Linked DNA regions of Homo sapiens. The protein of the gene in region 7 interacts with the protein of the main gene of each other region in a biochemical or structural test. Each region holds a gene or a part of one and is shown on either strand. Other genes may lie near its edges.

The links.
Region 1: of the proteins of H2AX (region 7) and PPP2CA, one has a biochemical effect on the other in vitro, tested with the Homo sapiens proteins (one study listed by IntAct).
Region 2: the proteins of H2AX (region 7) and SSRP1 form a complex in vitro, tested with the Homo sapiens proteins (one study listed by BioGRID).
Region 3: the proteins of H2AX (region 7) and DHX9 form a complex in vitro, tested with the Homo sapiens proteins (one study listed by BioGRID).
Region 4: of the proteins of H2AX (region 7) and RNF8, one has a biochemical effect on the other in vitro, tested with the Homo sapiens proteins (2 studies listed by BioGRID).
Region 5: the proteins of H2AX (region 7) and MDC1 form a complex in vitro, tested with the Homo sapiens proteins (5 studies listed by BioGRID and IntAct, with this or other methods).
Region 6: the proteins of H2AX (region 7) and MAPK8 form a complex in vitro, tested with the Homo sapiens proteins (2 studies listed by BioGRID, with this or other methods).

The regions. Positions count from the first base shown.
Region 1 is NC_000005.10:134,216,074-134,219,573, reverse strand, and holds part of PPP2CA (serine/threonine-protein phosphatase 2A catalytic subunit alpha isoform), read left to right. Parts: intron 1-3,500. UniProt on the Homo sapiens protein: Catalytic subunit of protein phosphatase 2A (PP2A), a serine/threonine phosphatase involved in the regulation of a wide variety of enzymes, signal transduction pathways, and cellular events.
Region 2 is NC_000011.10:57,329,393-57,332,892, reverse strand, and holds part of SSRP1 (FACT complex subunit SSRP1), read left to right. Parts: intron 1-37; coding exon 38-268; intron 269-406; coding exon 407-510; intron 511-612; coding exon 613-741; intron 742-1,003; coding exon 1,004-1,225; intron 1,226-1,965; coding exon 1,966-2,038; intron 2,039-2,151; coding exon of another isoform or gene 2,152-2,283; exon of another isoform or gene 2,284-2,463; coding exon 2,464-2,602; intron 2,603-2,754; coding exon 2,755-2,800; intron 2,801-3,500. UniProt on the Homo sapiens protein: Component of the FACT complex, a general chromatin factor that acts to reorganize nucleosomes. The FACT complex is involved in multiple processes that require DNA as a template such as mRNA elongation, DNA replication and DNA repair.
Region 3 is NC_000001.11:182,856,347-182,859,846, reverse strand, and holds part of DHX9 (ATP-dependent RNA helicase A), read right to left. Parts: intron 3,316-3,500; coding exon 3,269-3,315; intron 1,744-3,268; coding exon 1,607-1,743; intron 1,297-1,606; coding exon 1,207-1,296; intron 1,115-1,206; coding exon 953-1,114; intron 808-952; coding exon 730-807; intron 1-729. UniProt on the Homo sapiens protein: Multifunctional ATP-dependent nucleic acid helicase that unwinds DNA and RNA in a 3' to 5' direction and that plays important roles in many processes, such as DNA replication, transcriptional activation, post-transcriptional RNA regulation, mRNA translation and RNA-mediated gene silencing.
Region 4 is NC_000006.12:37,391,983-37,395,234, forward strand, and holds the end of RNF8 (E3 ubiquitin-protein ligase RNF8), read left to right. Parts: 3' UTR 1-2,752; downstream 2,753-3,252. UniProt on the Homo sapiens protein: E3 ubiquitin-protein ligase that plays a key role in DNA damage signaling via 2 distinct roles: by mediating the 'Lys-63'-linked ubiquitination of histones H2A and H2AX and promoting the recruitment of DNA repair proteins at double-strand breaks (DSBs) sites, and by catalyzing 'Lys-48'-linked ubiquitination to remove target proteins from DNA damage sites.
Region 5 is NC_000006.12:30,710,782-30,714,281, forward strand, and holds part of MDC1 (mediator of DNA damage checkpoint protein 1), read right to left. Parts: intron 3,403-3,500; coding exon 3,022-3,402; intron 2,937-3,021; coding exon 2,867-2,936; intron 2,574-2,866; coding exon 1,093-2,573; intron 946-1,092; coding exon 886-945; intron 724-885; coding exon 631-723; intron 1-630. UniProt on the Homo sapiens protein: Histone reader protein required for checkpoint-mediated cell cycle arrest in response to DNA damage within both the S phase and G2/M phases of the cell cycle.
Region 6 is NC_000010.11:48,404,177-48,407,676, forward strand, and holds part of MAPK8 (mitogen-activated protein kinase 8), read left to right. Parts: intron 1-675; coding exon 676-805; intron 806-3,500. UniProt on the Homo sapiens protein: Serine/threonine-protein kinase involved in various processes such as cell proliferation, differentiation, migration, transformation and programmed cell death.
Region 7 is NC_000011.10:119,093,374-119,096,965, reverse strand, and holds H2AX (histone H2AX), read left to right. Parts: upstream 1-1,500; 5' UTR 1,501-1,571; coding exon 1,572-2,003; 3' UTR 2,004-3,092; downstream 3,093-3,592. UniProt on the Homo sapiens protein: Variant histone H2A which replaces conventional H2A in a subset of nucleosomes. Nucleosomes wrap and compact DNA into chromatin, limiting DNA accessibility to the cellular machineries which require DNA as a template.

The DNA.
Region 1 (3,500 bases), on a different chromosome or scaffold from region 7:
CTTGCACCCTGTGTTGCCACTTCTGCCTTAGTTTAGTCATTTAGTTGCTACTACAGATGGGGATTTTTACCCTGCTGGTGTTGAGGCTGGAAGGTTGCAAACCTTTGTCCTAGATGGGGACGAGGAGTAGAATGGGAGACAAGCAGTAGCATGTGTTTACCTGGCCAAAGGCCTGCAAAATGTAGTTCACAGAGGTTATGGAGTGTCATTGATGCTATCGTGTGACAGTGTACATTTGATTTTGGAACCAGTATTTAATAAACCTTCATTGTATGCATTATTGTCACTATTGAGCTTTGTCTAAAAAGCACTACCTTATTCTCGTGTATAAGGATTTCTTAGTTTGGTTTTGCTCTAATTAATAGCACAGTTTTGGATTAGTCAGGAGATTGACTTTATAGTTAATTCTAGATAGGGAATGTTTTAGAATGCTTGTGCCGGTGGTGATCAAGTAACTTATTTTTCTGCCACTAATCTGTAAATGAGCAATAATGCCCACTATCTATTTCTTTTGGCTGGCTTTACTTAATAAAATAGGCTTAAGACATGCTTTAGGATGGGGTAGAATTCTAGTAATGGAATCAACCTTAAAGACCATCTAGGCTGGCGGGGCACAGTGGCTCACGCCTGGAATCCCAGCACTTTGGGAGGCTGAGGTGGGTGGATCACGAGGTCAGGAGATGGAGCCCATCCTGGCTAGCACGGTGAAACCCCGTCTCTACTAAAAATACAAAAAATTTAGCCAGGCATGGTGGTGGGCGCCTGTAGTCCCAGCTGCTCGGGAGGCTGAGGCAGGAGAATTGCTTGAACCCAGCAGGCAGAGGTTGCAGTGAGCCGAGATCGTGCCCCTGCACTCCAGCCTAAGCGACAGCAAGACTCCATCTTAAAAGAAAAAAAAAAAAAAGAAAGAAACAACCATCTAGACTAATTCATCTTACACAGATGAGGGAGGAAACTGAGACCCAGAGTGGTTGAATCTTGTTCATGATGTATTATTGTGACAATTTTTTAATAAGTAGATATATAGCAGCATTTCTCAGTTGTGTAGTAGATTAAAACTTCTTTTTCTATGCAGGAATGATTGGGAGTGTTTAATTCATTCACATATGTAGGTTAGTTGGTAAAGGTTGAGTTTAGTCTATTGTGCATATGAGACATAGGGCTTTAAGGATCTTTCCTTTTGGTCAGAGGCAAAGGTGATATTGCAGAAACAGATGGGAAAACTCACAAATTTTATATTTTCTTTTATTACACTTTTAGAATTATCCCTCATTCCCAACATTTTTCTTTTATTTAGGTCCTAAGCCTTAGAGCCAAACAGAAAATACTAGTTACTAGAATATTACCTGGAGGGTTAAACTTTTAAAATATAACCATACTGATTTTAATCAAAGAAGATTGAAATGTTTCGTGAAATATTAGTGGTATCTGTTCAGTGTAGTTAATGAAAGACAAGTAGTCATGCACCACATAATGACATTTTGGTCAGTGGTGGACTGCATGTGATGGTGGTCTTATGAAATTATAATGGAGCTGAAAAATTCCTATCACCTGGTGACCTTGTAATGTCATAGTGTAACACTTTATATTGTTTATGTTTAGTTATACAAATACTTAACATTATGTTAACAGTTGCCTACAGCATTCAGTACAGTAAATGCTGTACAAGTTTGTAGCCTAGGAGCAATAGGCTATCCAATAGCTTAGGTTTGTAGTAGTCTATACTATCTAGATTTGTGTAAGACCACTCTGTGATGTTCACACAACAACTAAATAATTTGATGTATCCCTGCGATTAAGCAACACATGATTAGTATGAAGAATGGTTTGATAGTTGAAGGAAATTAACTCAAAACTCATTTGCTTCCAGGGCTAGTAATATGTTCTACATCATGTATCACCCCACGCCTCAAACTCTAGCCCTGTACACTAACTTATCACAAACCTTGGATTTTTTTGCACAATTATCAAAATGACATATCAAACCAACCGTACATCTTGACATAAAAACAGTATGAGACAAAATGAAATTCTCTTGGGATATTGAAAAAATTTTTTTTGCCTGTGAATTTAGTAATTTTACTTATTAAGAATTTTCAAATGATTTCAGTTCTTAAACTGAAAAATAAAATTCAAAAATTAATTGCATTTTTTCCAGTGTTTCTTCTATGTCTTTATATTGGTAGAACTGTCCAACTATATGGTAAGGATGTGAAATGTTAAATTTACTTGAACTAGAGTTACAATGAACATTAGAATTAATAATCAGACTTCTTTTTTTTTTCTTTTTTTGAGAAGGGAGTTTCGCTCTTGTTGCCCAGGCTGGAGTGCAGTGGCACGGTCTTGGCTCACCGCCACCTCCACCTTCCAGATTCAAGCAATTCTCCTGCCCCAGCCTCCCGGGTAGCTGGGATTACAGGCATGCGCCACCACACCCAGCTAATTTTTGTATTATTAGAGATGAGGTTTCTCTGTGTTGGTCAGGCTGGTCCTCAAACTCCCGATCTCAGGTGATCTGCCTGCCTTGGCCTCCCAAAGTGCTGGGATTACAGGCGTGAGCCACTTCGCCCGGCCAATAATCAGACTTTTAGTAGTAAAATTACTTTCAAAAATGGAGATTCCTTTGTCAAATAGTACTATTATTAGTACTAAGATTGTAAAGAGGTTATTTGTGTCTGATTTTGAGTTTGATGCTACAGAGAAGACAGGTTAGGCCTGCATTGACGTTTTTCATCAAGGGCAGAATTGATGATACAGAAACTTGATTTCTGTCTAGGCATGGTGGCTCATACCTACAATCCTGGTGCTTTGGGAGGCGGAGGCTGGAAGCTCACTCGAGACTAGGAGTTTGAGACCAGCTTGGGCAATGTAGTGAGACCACCGTTTCTACAAAACAAAAAACAGGTTTCTTTAGTTAAGTATAAATCATTGATCTGTGATTAATCCAAACACTTTTTCCTCAGTATAGACCTTGGGGTTCTTCGGTGTTTGACTACCTTCTTTTGAAGGAAACCACTTTTTTTTTTTTTTTTTTTTGAGGCAGTCTCACTCTGTTGCCCAGGCTGGAATGCAGTGGCACAATCTCAGCCCACTGCAACCTCCGCCTCATGGGTTCAAGTGATTCTCCAGCTTCAGCCTCCTGAGTAGCTGGCATTACAGGCATGCACCACCATGCCCAGCTAATTTTTGTATTTTTAGTAGGGGAGGGGGTGTTTCGCCATGTTGCCCAGGCTGTTCTCAAACTCCTGACCTCAAGCGATCCACCCACCCTGGCCTCCCGAAGTGCTGGGATTACAGGCATGATCCACCGTGCCCACCCGAAACCACTTGTAATATACCTTTAGGAGAATGCTTTTAGTTACATCATGATCCCTTTCATGTAGCTAACAACAAAAATGAATATTAACCCCAAATATTGGAACTCGTATTTTGAAGCAAGTTATTTCTTGGTATACTTTAGTGCCAGAATTGGTACTGTTATGTGATTAACTGTTTTTGAG
Region 2 (3,500 bases), about 62 Mb from region 7:
GGGCCTGCTGCTTGGCTACCAATATGTGCTTTTGCAGGCCTTTGCCCAGAATGTGTTGTCAAAGGCGGATGTAATCCAGGCCACGGGAGATGCCATCTGCATCTTCCGGGAGCTGCAGTGTCTGACTCCTCGTGGTCGTTATGACATTCGGATCTACCCCACCTTTCTGCACCTGCATGGCAAGACCTTTGACTACAAGATCCCCTACACCACAGTACTGCGTCTGTTTTTGTTACCCCACAAGGACCAGCGCCAGATGTTCTTTGTGGTAAGCAGAAACCCCTATGGCCGGATAATCCTGGTTTTTGCCTAAGTGTTAAGTAGATGGATCTCACTGGTGTGCAGAATTCTACGTTGGTTAATTGCAAGTTGTTGTAGAGTGTCAATTAGTACTCTTCCTTACTAGATCAGCCTGGATCCCCCAATCAAGCAAGGCCAAACTCGCTACCACTTCCTGATCCTCCTCTTCTCCAAGGACGAGGACATTTCGTTGACTCTGAACATGAACGAGTGAGTGTCTCCCTGGACTCGTTTCCTACCACTGTCCAGGCAGGAGACAGGTGTGCCATTAGAAGGCAGTAGTGTTGTGACCTCACCTTGCTTTCTTTGTAGGGAAGAAGTGGAGAAGCGCTTTGAGGGTCGGCTCACCAAGAACATGTCAGGATCCCTCTATGAGATGGTCAGCCGGGTCATGAAAGCACTGGTAAACCGCAAGATCACAGTGCCAGGCAACTTCCAAGGGTGAGAGTGTGGGCCTGGGATCCTGCCCTGCCTGGGTATGGGAAATGCCGTGTCTCCTTGGTAAACCCTTCCTGAGATGGGAATGCGGCCTCCTAGAGGCCTGGATGGGACCTTGTGTCACAATAGGTGCCAGCGCCTCTGTCAGAACAGCTCAGTGAGGTTTACTTAGTCGAGGACATGAGCACTCGTGTCGCTGCTGCTAGATACGCCCTTTGCCTCTGCTGAGGTTGGCACTAACCAGGCTCCCTGCACCCTCTGTCAGGCACTCAGGGGCCCAGTGCATTACCTGTTCCTACAAGGCAAGCTCAGGACTGCTCTACCCGCTGGAGCGGGGCTTCATCTACGTCCACAAGCCACCTGTGCACATCCGCTTCGATGAGATCTCCTTTGTCAACTTTGCTCGTGGTACCACTACTACTCGTTCCTTTGACTTTGAAATTGAGACCAAGCAGGGCACTCAGTATACCTTCAGCAGCATTGAGAGGTGAGAACCTCCACCTGTCACTTCCTGGGCATCCTGGTCCCGAGCCAGCTTTGTCTAGGAAGGCTGGCGTGGCCTGGGGCACTCTCCAACCCTAGAGCAGAATTTTTCTTTTGCTACATCAGGATTTGGTCCTTTTCCCTGGAGTGCTCAGACTTTAGAAACCTCTCCATTGCTTTCTTTCTGGTCATTAAAAAAACAAAACAAAACAAAACAAAAAAAACTTTTTCCGTATTCTGAAAGCTATATGTCTTCGCTACTGGTCTTTTTTCTCCTCCACTCCCCACCATGATGGAAATGCTATCTCTTTCTTTCCTGGAATGAGCTTTGTGCCTGAGAACATAGCGGCTAATGCTTATTGAGTGCTCACTGTGGACTAAACGTTTTATAAGCATCTTCACGTGTAATCCTCATATCAACCTTGTGAAGTATGAAAAAAGATGACCACGTCCCCTGCCCCACACTTACTCCCCTCTGAGCTTATTTTGTAAACAGATGCGCACCCCTCCCTGCCTTTCCTTTCCCAGAGTTCTTCAAAGCCATGCAGTTCTTTCAGGACTAATGTCTGGCTCTGGCTCTGCCTTACTGCTGTCCTCTGGGGGTTTCTAAGCTGTTGGGTTGGGTAGCATAGTCAAGAGCTCCAGGCTCCACAGTCTACCCCAGCTCATGGAATCAGAACATTGTTTAGTGTGCCCCTGTGTTGGCACTACCTCTCTGGTAACATGGTGCATGTCCCCTCACAGGGAGGAGTACGGGAAACTGTTTGATTTTGTCAACGCGAAAAAGCTCAACATCAAAAACCGAGGATTGAAAGAGGTACTTCTGTGTGGGGAGGATGAGACCCTCTCCTGGTCTTTCTATAGGGGAGAAAGGGGTGGAGATTTTTTCCGGCTTCTTTTTCACTCTTTCTTCTCTTCTTACCCTTATAGAAAAAAGAGGTGCGTGTGACCCTTTCCCCCTCCTGGTGCAGGTTTCCTCTGCATGACCTTAGACCAGTCTATGCAGCCCCTCAGGAGCCCCCAGTGGGGCTGGGAGAGGGAGGGGCTTGGGGCTTGGACTAACCCAGTTGGCAGGAAGTACTTGGGCATAGGCCCTGCACGTTGGCTGTGTGTGGACAATCCAGCCCCAGGTCTTCTGGGAGCTGCTGCTCTGACTTGACAGGCATGGGGGTGTGCTTTTGAGTGTGCAGGGATTCTGGCTCGAGGGTGAGTTGGCCCCACCGTGAACTCTTCCCTGGCTAGGGCATGAACCCAAGCTACGATGAATATGCTGACTCTGATGAGGACCAGCATGATGCCTACTTGGAGAGGATGAAGGAGGAAGGCAAGATCCGGGAGGAGAATGCCAATGACAGCAGCGATGACTCAGGAGAAGAAACCGGTGGGTTAGCCTCCGTGCTGAGCACGAGGATGGTCAGACGCTCCTCGCTGTGGCCCGGGCTGGACTCACCCTTGGGCCAGAGCTGGGTGCCTGGGTGAGGTGGGGGGATTTCCATTGGGGCAGAAGCTGATGCATCCTGTGCCCTTTTTCAGATGAGTCATTCAACCCAGGTGAAGAGGAGGAAGATGTGGCAGAGGAGTGAGTTTTGGTGGTACCTTGTGGGGATAAGATGGTGACCCATAAGCTTAAGGGACCAGAAGATTTCTGGACATTTCTCAGGTCCCAGCATTAGCTACTGACCCAGAATGGGAGAGTGACCTCCAATGAGGTGATATACGAAAATGTTTTGGAAATTGTCAAGGGCTTTGTAAGTGCAAGACATATTTTGAAGTCGGAAAAGTATAGTGGGATCTATGGCCATACCGCCCTGAATGTGCCAGTTGGGGCTGGTTCGTAGTTGGATGAGGAGAGAATGGGAATGAGCTGGTGCTTGCCACTTACTTGCTGGGGGTTGTCGAGTAAGTCATTGAATCTCAATTTCCTCATCAGTAGAAATGCAGTAGTACCCCTGCTAAATTGGTTAAGACTTTTTGTTAGCAGTGTCAGAAATGTGATTCACTCTCACTTTAAAAGGGAACATATAAAAGGGAATTTCATAAGTTCATATTACTGCGGAGTCTGGGGATTTAATTGGCTTCAGACACTACTGGATTCAGGCGCTCAAATCTATTTCTTCCGATTTCCTTAATTAAAAATAGGTTTACCCCATGGGGTGCCCAGTGACTCTCAGAAGCTCAGGGCAGGCTTAATCCTACTGGTTTAAAACAACACCAGAAGTGCCTCTTTTGGTGAACAGCATAGTGAACACAGTGGTTACCTGCCCCTTTCTAGCCTGAGT
Region 3 (3,500 bases), on a different chromosome or scaffold from region 7:
GAGGTGAGGAGTTCGAGACCAGCCTAGCCAACATGGTGAAACCCCATCTCTACTAAAAATACAAAAATTAGCCAGGTGTGGTGGGGTGTGCCTGTAATCCCACCTACTTGGGACGCTGAGGCAGGAGAATTGCTTGAACCAAGGAGGCGGAGGGTGCAGTGAGCCGAGACTGAGCCACTGTACTCCAGCCTGGGCAACTAAGCGAGACTTTGTCTCAAGAAAAAAACAAACAAAAAAACCAAACTTCCATCTCTATAAAAACTTACTCATTTCCATTGGCTTAGTGATGAAAATGTTTTTTTCAAAAAAGAATGTGTATATTTATATCTCTAATAGAACTACTTCTTTTCACTACACTTCTGAAGAATGTATCTTTTGATGTTGTCCAAAAACTAAATTCTCATTGTCCCTGAAAGTCGCACACGCATTCTTTTTAACATTTTAATTTTTTATTTGGAAAACACTAAAACAAACAAAAAAACCAACAACAAAAGGAGTCACTGCCTTAAATCTCTCCACTTTTATTAAATTACATTAAGAAGTGAAATTCTCTCACAGGCCCTCAACTCATAGCAACTAACTTCAGGGGTAACTAGGATTAGCAGTTTGGTACATATCTTTTGATATGCCCTCCTTAAAAGGGCAAAATGTACTGCTCATTGACTTTTTACCCATACCTAGAACATTCTGAAGCTCTGAGCACTACTTGTCTAAATAATTCAGACTTACTGCTTGCAAATCATGATCCTGTTCCAACTGGTACATCAATTCATTCTTGAGGTCCATGCTTATTTGCTCTGGAGTAGCCTGTAAAACAAAAAGCCAACATAGTCAAACAAAAGCACATAATTCAGCTTCAAAATAAATCCATTTTTTACCTAGACATACTAATCAAATATAGTCTCAAGAGTAAAACACAAGACTCTGATCTCAAAAACAATATTGCACTCACAAAAGCCAGAGGCCCCTCATCAATGTTGCTACTAGTCCAAGGATTCCAGTTGGATTGTGGAGGTGACCAAGGAACCACACCCACTTGGTTTTGTCGCTGAGATGGTTCGAACTGAGCCAATTTGCCAATGTTGAGTGCAACTGGCACAGAAGGATCTTCAGGCTATTAAAAAATAAGAAAAACAAACAAAAAATATGATTTGCTTGTCTACGGAGAGTTCTACGTAAATGTGAACTAAACAGCTTTATGCTTACCGGGGGCAAAATCTCAAGATTTAGCTCTTGAATGATGTTTTGCAGCTGATGCTCTAAATCTTGAGAGAGGTTTACTTTGTAAGGCTCCACCTATGGAAAAAGGATCACACATTAACAACACTACTCAAATCTACTATAATGGGGCTAAGACTATACAGTCAACACTAGGTCTACAATATTCCTAAACCAATAGTCAGTTCCCTTTTGTGAGAGAATTACTTCAATGATTATTTACTCACTGCCTATTATGAACATCATGCCAGACACAGAGATGATTAGCAGGGCCATTTTCATTTCCTGAGGTAAGATTCTTAAAATTAAACTTCTTCAGCCAAACACTAAACAAGAGCTAAATTGAATCTCACACTATCTCACAAGTCTATTAAATCTAAAGACTCACTGTCTCTCCTTCCTTCTTCTTTGTAAGTCCGGAGTAAGCTTCAACCACTCCAAGATGGTACAGTTGTCTGACAAGTGACAGGGCACAGGACTGTGCTGCCAATTTCTTATTTGATCCATGTTCTCGTGCAAAAATCCCTATAATGTAAGGTCAGGATTATCAGACAGAAAGAAATCATCTGAGTAAAGAAACATCTTATCACAAGAAACTATGGGCTTACGTACACAAGAAGCCCTAAAATACAGGGTATGCCATGGCTTCTAGTTCCTTTTTATTCTATTAATATCTGCTAAACAAAAGAAATTGCCAAACAGCTTATCAACTAAATAACCAACAGTTTTGATTACTGGCTGATACTAGGACTCATACAAATCAATATTATGAAAGCAAATAACCTATTTCAACAAAGTTGTCACTGTTAATATCAGACATTAAAATGGGGAAGAAAACATAGTTTGAAAAGACAAAGAGTAAAAAATAAACCAGTAAAAGTAATTGGGTCCAGAGTGGTTACCTAGACCAGGATTTGGGAAACTTTTTCTATAAACGGTCAATTAATAAATATTTTAGGCTTTGCAGGCCATATAGTATCTTGTCACAACTACTCAACTCTGCCTTTAATGTGTGAAAGCAGTCACTGACAACAGAGTTTGATAAACCATAGGACTGGGAATGGCTTTACGTTTTTCAAGAGTTGTAAAAATAAAATGAGAATAACAATGTGTGACCTGTAAAGTCTAAAATGTGAGTGTAGCTATGTTACAATAAAACAGTTCTTATAAAAACAGGCAGTACGCTGGATCTGGCCAGAGGGCTATAGTTTGCTGACCTTAGCATTAAACTAAAGCTAAGTTACTCATATCCTTATAGAAAATATTAACAGAAAGTTTCCTCTCCTCCTGTATCATTCATCCTTAGGAGAGATGAATATAAAGCAAAGGGGTACAAAGGTATCTTTCTGCCTAACTAGCCAAATTAACCTCGATAAGGTAAGTGAGCTGACAGAAGTTAGCCTGCCTTTATCCTCTCTCCCTTAGTATTATCCATCCACTCAAAATAACTCATTGTATATATAAAAATGAAAAAATGTTTAAGACCAGGCACAGTGGCTCACGCCTGTAATCCCAGCACTTTGGGAGGCTGAGCCAGGCAGATCACTAGGTCAGGAGATAGAGACCATCTGCTAACATGGTGAAACCCCGTCTCCACTAAAAACAAAAAATAATCAGCCGGGCTTGGTGGCAGCACCTGTAGTCCCAGCTACTGGGGAGGCTGAGGCAGGAGAATGGCGTGAACCTGGGAGGCGGAGCTTGCAGTGAGCCGAGATCACACCACTGCACTCCAGCCTGGGCGACAGAGCAAGACTCCGTCTCAAAAAACAAAAAAGGTTTAAAATTAATTGACACTGGCAGACTCCTAATCATCCCACTGTGTCTTACCTTTGAAAGATTACACTAACATGGTCTGTTTTCACATGCAAACTGGGAGACTTTGCCTCTAATTTATATAATTACTAATATTCTAAAATATACCCTAGATGCTATCTTACATTATGTGCTCTTTCAAATAATACAGCTTCTGTATACGTGACTCAAGACTTAAAATGTGAAGATTCCTTCTCTATACAGAGACTTGGAATATTGGGGAAACAGTAACACTTACTTCTGCCCAGCTGCTTGATATAAATGGTCATTTCTGCAATAAAGCTCCTGTAACAACATATACAAGCAAGGTTAGAAATTTCACTGTTAGAAACCAGCAAATCCAGGTCTCCCAAGTCAGGCAGGCTTTCCAACTGCTTAGGCAAATCACAGAAAAAAAAAATTACCAACATTTATTTCTGCCCAACCCTAGAACAAATGAAGTATATAAACTTCAAATAATATACAACATG
Region 4 (3,252 bases), on a different chromosome or scaffold from region 7:
ACTATTGATTGCCAACTTTTTAAGGATGGTAGGGATTTTTTCTTTGTTGAATATACTGTGAATTTTGGGATTCTGGAGTCCTTAGTCTTCATTTCCATTCTTCTGCCCATGATTACTGATCAAAATACTGGTAGAGTCATGGAGGAAGTAAGTTAAATGTGGAAAAAATGCTTTAAAAGTACTTACTATAACCACATCATAAGAATTCTGGAAAAATAGAGAACAAAAGGAAAAGATTGTTACCACCTTGATTTAATAACTTCTTGTTTCCCCATACATGTGTTTTGTTTATAGATTGCATGGGTATATGTCAATTTTTATATGTTCTGTGTTTAGTTTACATATTGTAATTCATTTTTAAGAGAGTACAGACATACACTTTTTGAGTAGGCAATATGTTCACATAGTTTGAAATTAAAGGTACAAAATGGCGTAGAATGAAATGCCTCTCACCCTTTCCCCACAGCGACTACTTCCCACTCAGAGGCAACAAGTATTACAGTTGCTTGTATATTCTTCCAGAGATCTCTGTCTATACAAGCAAAAACACATGTGGTCTTTTTCCTTGCTTTGCACAAATGGTAAACTGTACGCTATTCTGAACCTTGCTTTTTTCAGATATATGTTGGCAACAGTTCCATGTCAGTACATAGTTTCCTTTCTTTATTACAGCTGCCTGTTTTTTCATTGTGTATTTGCACCATCATTTACTTTTCTGGCTTACTTTTGATAGAAATCTAGGTTGGTTCAAACCTTTTTACTCTTAAAACAATGCTGCAGTTAACACCCTTGTACATATATCTTTAGAGAGAAGATATTTTAAAAAGAAATACCTTTTTAAAAATTATTTTATTATTTTTTAATAGAGACTATGTTGCCTAGGCTGGTCTTGAAATTCTGGGCTAAAGCAATCCTACCACCTTGGCCTCCCAAAGTGCTGAGATTACAGGCATGAGCCATTGCACCTGGCCAAGAAGAGACATCTTGACTTGAGCCTGAAGACTATGTACAGAGACTGACCTCACAGACTGACCATTCCATCCCACAGCTGCTGGACATAGAGTGATTTGCAGCCCCTCCTTTCAGAGTACCACATCCCTCTCAAGTGTTCCACAACATCTAGGAAAGTGAGCTCTTAAAGACAGACTAAAAAGAGTAATAAATCAATACAACAACATTAAAAGCCAGACTAGCGGAGTTTGAATCTTGGCCCTGCTGTTAGTAACTGTGTGAGCCTTGGGCAAGTTACTCAGCCTCCTTGTGTCTTGGTTTTGGTTTCTTCATCTCTAAGTAATTATATCTGTCATTATTGCCCTGATCACAAACAAAAGCCTGAATGTACTATGTTTAAAAGACAAACCAAAAATTAACCCAAACTTGCATTATTTGTCTGAGCTACAGAATGTTCTTTCCTTGGAGAGATATCTGATATTAAACATCATCTGCATTTTACTTGCCTAGAAAATACACGGTAACTTTTCTGCCTTGCAGCATCAAACTATAGTACAGCTGAGCCCCAGTGCTGTGCAGTCTGACTCTAATTAAAGGCACCTTCTTTACAGCAGGGCTCTGGGGAACTGGAAAAGGGGGTTTGTTTCATTATCTGGTTTTATTAAGCAGATGAATGCAGCCAGCTATATGAAGCACTTTGCAGTGAATGGCAGGTGTCCCATATCTGGTTATGTTAACCTAGAAAGGGCTCACTCTACCTCTAGGCATGTTTCATCCCAACAATCAGACTGTGCCAAAGCAGGGGACTTTGTCCTTTGTGGATTGCATAGCTGGATACCCATCATCTGTTTCTCTGATTGGAAGCTGCTGTTGTACAGAAAGACCTGCATTTCCCCCTTGTCTCCAGTTCTCTCACTACTTTTTCCTCCTCTGTGAGTGACCATCCAGGCAGTCACCATAACTGCTGGAGTGTCTGGGATTGGTAGCTCTCTCCAACTGCCTGCTTGCTCTTTACAGCCTCTCTCTGTGACTGGAATCTCTCCACCTCATCGTATCTAAGGATAACCCAGAAACATGGGGTGTCCTAGGTATGTTTATCTCGACACTGAACCCCCTAGGCTTCTGATGAATCCAGTGATTAGCTAAATTTGACATAGAAAGTAAGAAGGAATGTCTACTTTGTATTGTGGTCCTAATCTAAGATCAGGAGAATCCTGGAATTGTTATCTGTCTCTTGCTCTGAGATACAGACTTGTTCATAGGTGTGGGGCCTGATTGGAACAGGATCTGCCATTGGTCACAATAGGTCAAGGGCTTGTTCTGAACCCTAGTTAGCTTCATTCAGAGAAAGAAACTTCCTACCTGGTCAGCTTTTTCAGCTTCTCCAACAAATGGGAGTTGAGGCAGTAGGAGTGTGGGGTTCTTGGGAAGACGATGGGGCCTTGTATTAAGGAGAAATAATGAACTATCTTCTTGATTCTTCCATTGAGAAAAGCATATGAATCCTAGGAAAGGGCTCAGCCTGTGATAGGCATTCAATAAATACTCCAATGCTGTCATTCCTTTGTCTACAGCATCCCCAAACAATGTACCAGTGATGGGCTACCTGAGCTCATCTAGTCGCCAAGCAGTATCTCCTGCTTGCTGCTGCTTTACTACATTCCAGATGCCCACCTCATCCAATTTCCAGAGCCACTATCTCTGCTGTCCACTTTCCTTCAGGCTCTGTGAATACTTCAACCTGCTGTGATTTGGGGCCGTTTGTACTCTGCATGTATTCAATAAATTCAATTCAGCAATAGTTATCAAATGCCCATTTTCTTACTAGGCACTGCTCTAGGTGTTTGGTATGGCAATGAGCAAAACACAACCATTGTGAGCTGATGTTCTAGAAAGGTGTCAAAAGCGTTTCAAAGGTTTTATGAGATGCTGTGGGAGGGGGTTACGCACTGCTACCTACTGAGGTAGCAATGTTGGGTGTTTCCTCACATTCCTCAACCTCCACGCAGGAGATCCAGCAGGCTACGCTGGCCCATCCCAAGATCCAGAACTGGCGTTTCACATCTCTAGGACCTGGGTAGCCCAAGCCTTTGCAGCCTGCTGCTTTTACCACCACCCACCGGCCCTCAGGATGTAGGGACCAGTTCCTTAGAGATCAAGCTGTCCTGGGCCTCTACCCAGCTCTACCCAGGGGCCTTCAAGGGCATCTCTGTGGCAGGTTTCAGGGCAAGTTTGGCCTTTTAGCATGGAGAATAGGCCCTGAAGCACCACATACCACTGTCCTGTGTAGGCAGGCACCCA
Region 5 (3,500 bases), on a different chromosome or scaffold from region 7:
AGTGTGTGTGTGTTTTTTTTAAGAGACATTGGGGGTGGGGGTTGAGGGATGGGCTATTGCCCAGACTGGGCTCAACTGATCTTCCCATCCTGGCCTCCCATGTAACTGGGACTACAGGTGCTCACTACTATGCTGGGCTAATTTTTTCATTTTTGTGGAGACCAGGTCTCTCTCTGTTGCCCAGGCCAGTCCCTAAATATTTTCAACCTGCAGCTGGTTGAATTCACGGACGCAAACTCGCATACACAGAGGGCTCACTGTAATCAGAGTATGAAAGAAACATGTAGGAAGGCAAATCAAGAAAGAACGCAGGCCGGGCGCAGTGGCTTACGCCTGCAATTCCAGCATTTTGGGAGGCCGAGGCAGGCGGATCACTTGAGGTCGGGAGTTTGTGACCAGCCTGGCCAACATGGTGAAACCCTGTCTCTACTAAACATACAAAAAATTAGCCAGGCATGGTCATGGACAGCTGTAATCCCAGCTACCTGGGAAGCTGAAGGAAGAGAAACCGCCTGGGAGGCGGAGGTTACAGTGAGCCGAGACTGCACCACTGTAATCCAGCCTGAGTGACAGAGGAAAAAAAAGAGAATGCAGAATTGGGGACACAGAGGAGGGAAGAGTTTCTTATACCTGTTGTCTGGAAGCTGCAATGGGAAGGGCCAAGCTCTTGGGGTGGAGTCAACATGAAGGCCTGGGTAGGTTCATCCTCCATGCTCTGGACTGCTGTACAGGAAAAGATGGCCTAAGTTCATCTCCTCCATACTACTGTAGGGTTCCATTCCTGGTCTCCTACCCTACCCATACTAGCCTTTACCCTTCAAGGACCACCAGTCTAATCTCCCAGCTCCCACTGGTACAGGATTCAAATAACACAGAAGTCCTCACCTTCCAGGCCCTGATTCTCCAGAAAGCACTGGGTAGCTTGTAGGTCCAGATCTTCAGAATCTGGTCGGGGAGGAATATAAGACAGTTTAAAACAAAAATCATACCTGACACTAAACTCCTTAAATAATCTCTACCTTTCTCTCCCCAACCCCAGCTGTTAGAACCCTGGTTGATTTCAGAGGTCTAGGAAGGAAGGCCAGCACTTACCACCATAGTTGTCTTCAGAGTCCTTGGTCCCACCCACATGTTGTTCTCTCTCCCTTCCTGTGGGGACCTGGGCTCCCTCTCTCTGTGGCTGGGTGGATTCCCCTAGAGTGTCTGTGTCCACCACCAGATCTGTGAGGTTCTCTCTTGAGATAGGGAGGTCCTGCTCCACTTGTGCCACAGGTGGCCCACCCTGGGCCCCCACCTCATGAGCTCTCTCCTGCTTAAGAACAGCTGCAGCCCACTCTGCCCCAGCATCCCCTTCTGCTGGAAGCTGGCTCTTTCTTACATCTGCAACTACTGAGGCTGTTAGGGAGGTGCCCTCCTCTGCATCTGTTTCACAGTCCCCATGCAGAGGCCAGGCTTCCTCTAGAGATACCACAAGCAGCTTTGCTGGTCCCCCAACTGCTTTCACATCTGTTTGATTTGTCCCCTCCACAGACACCTGATGCTTCTTTATATGTATAATGGCTGACCCTGGCGGGACTTCCTTCTCCACTTGTGTGTTGATGTCCACTGTGGTGGAGGCTTGGCTTCTCTCCAGGTGGATCCCAGGTGAGCTCTTATCTGCTTCCACACTGTCATCACTGTCCCCAAAAGGAGGTTGGTCCTTTTCTGAATGTGCTCTAACAAGGGCTCTAATCTTTGTGTGATCCTTGAGGACAGCTTCTCTATTTTCCACTGGGAGCTCTTCCTCCTCCACGTCTGTGTCACTGTCTCTCTCAGTGGTGGTTTGGCTTCGCTGCAGAAGGACCACACGTTGGGGCATGTCCTCTTCTGCATCTCTGTTCCATATAGCAGGCTGGCTCTCTTTCAGATGTGCCAAAGTCAGCGCTGCTGAGACTTCTTCCTCGTCATCTGTATCGCTGTTGATAACCATGGAAGCTTGGCTTTTCTCCAGAGGGACAGCCTGTGGGGCCTTGCCTTCTTCCACATCTGTATCACTACCAGCCTGGCTCTCCTGCAGATGGGCCAGGCCTGGTGCTCCAGGACCCCTTGTACCTACTCCATGGAAGATCTTCCTCTTCTTCATAGGAATGACAACTGGGGTTGCTGGGATCCTCTCTTCTTCCGCATCAGTGTCGCTGTCGATGAAGCCAAAAGGCTGAGCCCTTTCCAAATGGACCTCAGCTGGCCTTCCAGGAGGCCTGCTGTCATCATCCACATCTGTGTCACTGTCCTCTCCAGGAGGTTGGCTCCTCTCCAGAATCACCCCAGCTGGAACCACCCCATTCCCTGCACCCCTCTTGACTTTTGTATCATTGTCCCTCTCCTTCACTAAAGGCTGATCCTTTTCAAGCTGGATTTCAGTTACAACTTCAGCTTCAGACTGCTTTGCCTCTACAGTGGCACCTCTTCTGGCAGCTGAGGAGGCCTCCTCTGTGGCTGGTTGCTGACCTTCTTCCACATCTGTGTCACTGTTCAAATTGAAGGCAAAAGGCGGCCCAAGGCCGCCCAGGACCGGGGAATGCCCCTCTTCATCACTGTGAAGGGAAGAAAAGAGAGTCTATAGAATTTATTTCCCTGGAAGGGATACCCCAACTCAACTGTGAGCTCCTTGAGGGGAGACACAAGGTAGCATATTTCTTCTTCTGTTTCCAATTTGTTTTCCACTTGGCACATCAGATGTGCTCCATAAAAATTCAGCTGAGTGAATGAATATGTATGGTTCCCCAGCCCCAACTCTCATGATAATCATCTCTTTTAGAGATTGATCCTCCAGCCCCTGGTTCTTCCTCATTTTGAAGACTCAGGTGTCTGACTCTTTGGCACTCACCTCTCTGGAACTATCACAGAGGAAGATGTGGTCCTTGATTTTTTTACCATACGCCTTTCAGAAAGAAAATCTGTCAAGAACAGAAAGGAATGAGTTGACAATTGTACACTCATTATTCCTGTCTCCTCATTCTCCCTGCCAATATACAAACTTACCTACTTCCTCCTCCGAGTCCTCAGCCAACAGAAGCCTCTGGGGTTGAGTTTCTCCCTGTACTCTGGGTGTCTCTTCTACTGTCAGAGGGCCCCGGGAGACAAAGGGCAGAGAGACATCCAGGCGATGGTACTGGCAGAGCAAGTCAGCAAAGAGAATCAATTCCTGGTCCCTCAGACGGTGACTCACCCCAGGGCTCAAAACCTTAGGAGGTCTCAGGATTTGAGTACCATTAAGGCTCCCACAGTCTCGGAGGATAGGTGCCTTGTCCCAGGCTAAGATTTCAATCTCTGCATGTTGTTTGGAGATAGATGGAAAGGGCAGGGCCACAGAGCAGTCAGGCATTCGGCCTACCACATTCTTCCCGAGGTGTAGTGGGAAATCTAAGAATTAGAGAGGTAGATAAGCTCCAAGATCAGAGTCCTGGCCTGTCATTAGGAAAAAGTGCCTATTAGGTACTCTACTACTCACTCAAGGCCTC
Region 6 (3,500 bases), on a different chromosome or scaffold from region 7:
TTTTTTTTTTGAGGGAGTCTACCAGGCTGGAGTGCGGTGGTGCGATCTTGGCTCACTGCAACTTCCGCCTCCCAGGTTCAAGTGATTCCCTTGCCTTAGCCTCTCAAGTAGCTGGGACTACAGGTGTGCACCATCACACCCAGCTAATTTTTTTGTATTTTAGTAGAGGCGGAGTTTCACTGTGTTGGCCAGGATGGTCTCGATCTCCTGACCTCATGATCCACCCACCTTGACCTCCCAAAGTGCTGGGATTACAGGCGTGAGCCACTGCACCCAGCCTCGTATGCATTCTTTATCCTACCTTTTCTTGATGGAAGTACAAGGTTAAGGATTTATTTAGGCTTTAGGCTATCTAGTGGAGCTAAATAATTATGGATTTGTACATTGAGTGCCCACGATGTACTAGGTGGATCTTTGAGGCAACACAACGAACATGCAGGGTCTCTGTTGGCATAGTCCACTGTCTATTTGGATCCATTAGCATTTTAGGAAATAGTTGCAAAAAAATATATGTTGTAATAGATATAGAAGACACATGTTGAGCGTCATAGACTTGGAAGGGATCCAGTTACTTGTCTTTGGAGAAAGTGAGAAATGTATATGACTGTTTCATGAATTCAGTTTACAGATTTTTGCTTGAAGTTTTTTTGTGTGTTTTTGAATTTCTTATTACAGCGCAGCTTATGATGCCATTCTTGAAAGAAATGTTGCAATCAAGAAGCTAAGCCGACCATTTCAGAATCAGACTCATGCCAAGCGGGCCTACAGAGAGCTAGTTCTTATGAAATGTGTTAATCACAAAAATGTAAGTGAACATTTTTGGTTTCCTAAGTATAGATGAAATCAAGATTTATTCATGAATATGTGAATATCAAAGACTAAATATTAGGGGCTTTAAATTGTTCTGTATTAAAACATTGTTTAAAAGGGATATATATATATATATATATATCTACAGGGTGATTTTCCTCAACTTTATTAAATTGTATCAGAAGAATGGCTTCTAAAATTTAGATTATATGATTTCCTGTCATTTAATTTACAAAAGGAGTTTTAAAAAGATAAGCGTTTGAGAAGAATTTTATTCAGCTTGATCTCATCTTCTGCTTTTTGTTCTCCGTCAGGCTGACATTTAGAAAACTGTAGCATTAGCACAGAGATGAAATTGTTCCCATTATGCTTTGACACTCTGACTTTAATCATATTGAATATAAAATTTATATCACTTCTCCCTACCCCACTCCCACCTCTTTAAGTGATGGCAGTATTCACTGATCACTTTATGATGAGGATAGTGGGTTTAGCAGAAAGTGTTTGAAACTATCTAGAGGGTATTAACATGTTTCTAATTCTATTTTCTAATGATTGCAAAGATAAGTCTTTATAAAGATATATAAGTTGCACTCATTTTGAGAATAAACAGTTATACTTTTTTAAACTTACATTAAGCTTATTCATACTTTTGTGATTGTTCTAATGGAATGATTTCTTCAGTTGAGGAAATAAACTAGGAGTGAATTGTGTAAGGGACACTTTTAGGCAGTCCTAAACCGAAGGCATCTGACTAAAGACATTTCGTAGTGTTTGTCCAAAAGAGTTTATATAATATAATGAGCACAGTACCTTCTGACTACAGATAATACAATTTACCACATTTTGAGATCTAAATATGTGCAGGCCTCTGTGTATTGGAGTTACTGGGTTCATTATCAAGGGAAAAAAAAATCATGGAAGTTCAGGATTAGGCCCTTTATTTGGGGAGCTTACAATGGTGTTTTGAATACAAAACAGACATACAGAGAGTTAAATATCAAACATCACAAAGCAGTGGCCGTTTGTCAAATGATGATGGTGGCCCATATATTGAAATCTAAAAAGAGGGACGATTTCTGTGAGCTTTAATTAACTGGGAAGGCTTTGGGGAGGAGTAGACCTAGGCTGACTCTTAAAGATGGGGTAAAAATTGGATTGTTGAAGGAAAGGAGCCTTCAGAGAGGAAGAATGACGTAAAAAAGGTCCAGAGACAAAGATTAAACTTAGATAATAATAGGGAGGAAGTTGTGGTAGCCATTCTTGTTCCAAGCGGGAACTTGATGTGTTGCTCATCACAGTTTTGCTGGTGGCATCCTGTCCATGGATAGAGCTGCTCGTGCCCCTTGTGGCCTGTGAACGCAGTTCCATGGCAGTGGTGGTGTTGCCTTAGTTTTTCCTTGGGGAGGAGTTCAGTTAATCCTACCTCTCAAGCCTGGGTGACTGCAAAGAAAGGTGGTTCCTTCAACTGCATGGAGTATGACTAAGCATGTCTCACATGATTAGGCCTCTAGCAGGGGTGGCAGAGGTTTATCCAGGCAGAACTCTCAGCACCTAGAAGAGTGTGGACAAGAGTAGGTACTCAGAATATATTTGTTCAGTGAGTGAGTATAAAGCTAAATATGGGAAAACTGGAAATGGTAACTGAATTATTCCACTCACCCATGGATGGATGTTTTTGTAGTGTTTTGCCTTTTAAACAATTTCATCCTCTGTACAGATTGTCTCTTCACTGGTCTAAGCATCTCTGGTTTTTCTCATTCTTTTCATAGATGGTCTTGAGTTTCTTTTTTAATCTTGGCCGTTTATCTCTGAACACACTTTGAAAGTGACCTAGCACACACTACTGCATAAGCCACCTAGCACACAGTACTGCACGTCTGATCAAATCCTCTGAGAGGAGCTGAGGCATGTCATCTCTTAACTGTAGACATTAAAACCCTGTTTAGAAATTTCGTCCCCATCTGACTCCCGTTGTCTTTCTTTGTTACAGGCCTGCCTTACAGTTCCCATCTCACCCAGTCTTTATATTTTTTCTTTTGATTATGGAGAATTAAGTATAGTACTTCATGTTTCTCCCTATTAAATTTCAAAGGTGAAATGTGGTTGCTCTTCCTGGTCTACTAGTGATTGCTGTGATTGCTTTTTTCTTCCTTGTTCTGACTTTTCACTTGTGGGCTTCACTTCCCAGTTTTGCTCAGGATATCTTTGTAATAGCTGGATTAATTCATTAGCAACTTTTGAGCATATTGCAGAAATTACGTGTCTAACTATCACAGTTATCCAGCTGTTTCCAATTCATCATCTTATTCACATGGATGTTATTATTAGAAACATTTTGTAAAATGCCATTTTGAAATCTTCATATACTGTGTCTGGTTGCATTTTTCTGATTTATTGCTATTGTTCTTTGTTGTTTTTATTCATGGAAGGAAATAGTATTTCTCAATGAACTTTTACCTGCTCTTGGTAATTGTTACTTCTTTTGAAGTAGTTATATACCACTACTAATCATTGACTTTTGCTTGGCTGTCCAGTCTATAACTGATATAATTTCCTTTATTTCCCTTTTTGAAAAATGGGACAACTATCTGTTTGAATCTCTTTTATAACAGCTTTATTGAAATATAATTTCTGTGTCATGCAATTCACCCATTTGAAGTATACCATTCAGTGGTTTTTAGTATATT
Region 7 (3,592 bases):
TCTAGGATTCCTGACTCAGGCTGACCTCTCTCTCTGGTCCCAGACTGCCTCCTTGCCCAGGCCTCTCTCACTCTTCATACTCCTCCAGATTTTGTTCTCAGCATTTTCCTTTCTCTGTGATCATTGGCATCCTGGGCGTTTCTTGCCCTCTGCTGACTACTGATTGGATTTTACCTATGGCTTTCTGCAACTTGCTACTCTCTCCCTCTCCATCCCATCTTTGCAGCCTCATAGGGTGGGATACAGCAGCTTTTTTTGCAGTTATCCACACTCACATTTCAGAGTCCTGACTCTCAAGGAACCACTGGTTTTTGGGATAGAACTTGGGCCAGGGCTAGGAACACAGGCTCCACGGTGACATGTCATTTGATTGTAAATTAAGTGTTCTGATTAGTAAGAACTAAGCAGGGGGCCACATGCTCTCAATGGAGACAATAAAGTGTTGTCTTTTTCTTATTGTTTATGTAGGTATATTTCCTATATGGGCATTTTTGGGTAGATTGGGAGGGGTGGTGGGGGTACTTCCTCCAACAGGATGCCTATCTCTCTGCCCCATCAGACCCCGTCTAACAAGAAGTGAACAGAACTGAGACCAAACAGAACATATTGAATAAATATTTAAATCCTGATACTAGAGGTGGCATGGAGGGCCACAAAATTGAAGTTATCCTGTTTCCTGGCATGGGAACAAACTTTCAAAGAGTCACCGGGTGCAGTGGCTCATGCCTGTAATCCCAGCACTTTAGGAGGCTGAGGCAGGAGGATTGCCTGAGCCCAGGAATTCAAGACAGCCTGGGCAACAAAACGAGACTCCGTCTCTACAAAAATAAAATAATTAGCCAAGTGTGGTGGAGCACTTGTAGTACCAGCTACGAGGGAGGTTTAGCAGGGAGGATTCCTTGAACCCAGGAGTTCGAGGCTGCAGTGAGCTGAGATCACACTACTGCACTCCAGCCTGGGTGACAGAGCCAGTGACACCCGGTCTATTAAAAAAAGAAAGAAAGAAAAAAAAGAAAACTTTTAAGGGGTCTAATTTCTTCACTTTTCCATTCTCCCTTTGTCAGGTAGGAGAAGGGAGTAGGGAGTGACTGGACCTGGAAAGGAGGGCTGCAGTAGCTATAATATTGACCCCTTTCCTTTAAAAATCCTACGCCGGCACAGATTTCCCAGACGCTCTCTAGGTGGCCTCAGACTCCACCCCTTTGGTCTTCCGCTTCTGGTTTCCGATTGTAGTGTTTAAATCTCGCGCGCTTTACAAGGATTGGCTACATCAGCGGATAGTTGGCAGTCTGCGTGCTACCCCTCCTCCTCGCCTTTTCTCCCCGGGCAAAAGGTTTTCAAATTCGACCAATCAGCGGGCGCGCTCCCTCAGCCGAGCCGCGACACCCAAGGGTTAACCGCAACCAACCGGAGGCGGGTATTGGAGAAAAGAGCCAATCAGGAGGGCGCAGAGGTGTGTCCTGGGGGCTTATAAAGGCGGCCTCGCGGCGCGCGCGCGACAGCAGTTACACTGCGGCGGGCGTCTGTTCTAGTGTTTGAGCCGTCGTGCTTCACCGGTCTACCTCGCTAGCATGTCGGGCCGCGGCAAGACTGGCGGCAAGGCCCGCGCCAAGGCCAAGTCGCGCTCGTCGCGCGCCGGCCTCCAGTTCCCAGTGGGCCGTGTACACCGGCTGCTGCGGAAGGGCCACTACGCCGAGCGCGTTGGCGCCGGCGCGCCAGTGTACCTGGCGGCAGTGCTGGAGTACCTCACCGCTGAGATCCTGGAGCTGGCGGGCAATGCGGCCCGCGACAACAAGAAGACGCGAATCATCCCCCGCCACCTGCAGCTGGCCATCCGCAACGACGAGGAGCTCAACAAGCTGCTGGGCGGCGTGACGATCGCCCAGGGAGGCGTCCTGCCCAACATCCAGGCCGTGCTGCTGCCCAAGAAGACCAGCGCCACCGTGGGGCCGAAGGCGCCCTCGGGCGGCAAGAAGGCCACCCAGGCCTCCCAGGAGTACTAAGAGGGCCCGCGCCGCGGCCGGCCGCCAGGCCTCCCCATGCCACCACAAAGGCCCTTTTAAGGGCCACCACCGCCCTCATGGAAAGAGCTGAGCCGCTTCAGACTGCGGGGCAAGCGGGCCGCGGCTCCCTTCCCCTCCCCTCCCCTCGCCCGCCTTCGCCGCCCGGCCTCGAGTCCCCGCCCGCCCCCGCTCCCGTCCCGCACCGCCTGCCGCGTCGGCCTCGGGCCCTGCCCTGTCCGCCGTCCGCCCTCCGGTAGGGTTCGGGCCTTCCGGATGCGGCTTGGGCGCTCTTCGGGGACCTCCGTGGCGCGGAAGACCCGAGCCTGCCGGGGGGAGGCCGGCGGCGCCGCACCTGCCCGCCTCGGCGTTCGTGACTCAGCCGCCCCATCCCGAGTCGCTAAGGGGCTGCGGGGAGGCCGCAGCACCTTCTGGAAGACTTGGCCTTCCGCTCTGACGCAGGGCCGAGGTGGGCAGTCCAGGCCGAGAGGCCGGCGGCCCTGAAGGTGAGTGAGGCCCTCGGCAGCTGCAGCCGGGGTGTCTGGTACCCCCCCGGCGTGGTGCTTAGCCCAGGACTTTCAGACGCGGCCGCTGGCCGGGAGGCTTTGGTGGGAGAGACGCGATCGCCGATTTCGGTCTGGCGCCCCTTCTGCGGCCGGGACCCAGGCCTTTCACATCAGCTCTCCCTCCATCTTCATTCATAGGTCTGCGCTGGGGCCGGGACGAAGCACTTGGTAACAGGCACATCTTCCTCCCGAGTGACTGCCTCCTAGGAGGACATTTAGGGGAGGGCAGAGGCCTGCAGTTTGGCTTCACGGCTGGCTATGTGGACAGCAAGAGTCGTTTTCGCGGAAGCCGACTGGCAGCCAGGCCTGTCGGGCCCCCCGACGCCGCCCCATTTCCCTTCCAGCAAACTCAACTCGGCAATCCAAGCACCTAGATACCAGCACAAGTCGGTTAATCCCTGTCTGGACTGAGCCTCCGTTGGCTTCTGAACTGGAATTCTGCAGCTAACCCTTCCACGACTAGAACCTTAGGCATTGGGGAGTTTTAGATGGACTAATTTTATTAAAGGATTGTTTTTTTTTTAAATGGAGCGTTTGTTTTCATTTTGCAAGAGAGTTGTAGAATTAGTGACTTTCTATACTTTCCTGATAATAGGGGTGGGAGGGGCCATGCAATATAAACAGGCTCTACTGTTAACTGAAGGGGCAAACCATAGGAATTTAAGATTGTGGCTCTGTTTCTTGGTGTTCCTGGGAGACAATTTATTCTGTGTGAAATGAAAACTATTGAGGCAGAAGCAGAAAGGACGTACCAGGAGAACTCTGGGCAAAAGTCCCAGCCTCTGAGGTAAGGATGAAAGGGCTTTGTGTTTGTTCCTATCTTCCCGCCAACTCCACACGCGCACACACAACACCTTCAGAACTGGTTTATTAGTAGGATTGGTTACATTCAAAGGCTGTTGCTTGGACTTCTCTAAAGAGATGAAGCCCCCACATACTGAGGAGGCAAGGCAGTCATCAAGGCCCCAAGGTGAGGCAAATCCCTGGAAGGCTTGAACCCTGCAGTTCAGTCTCCCGGGGTAATCA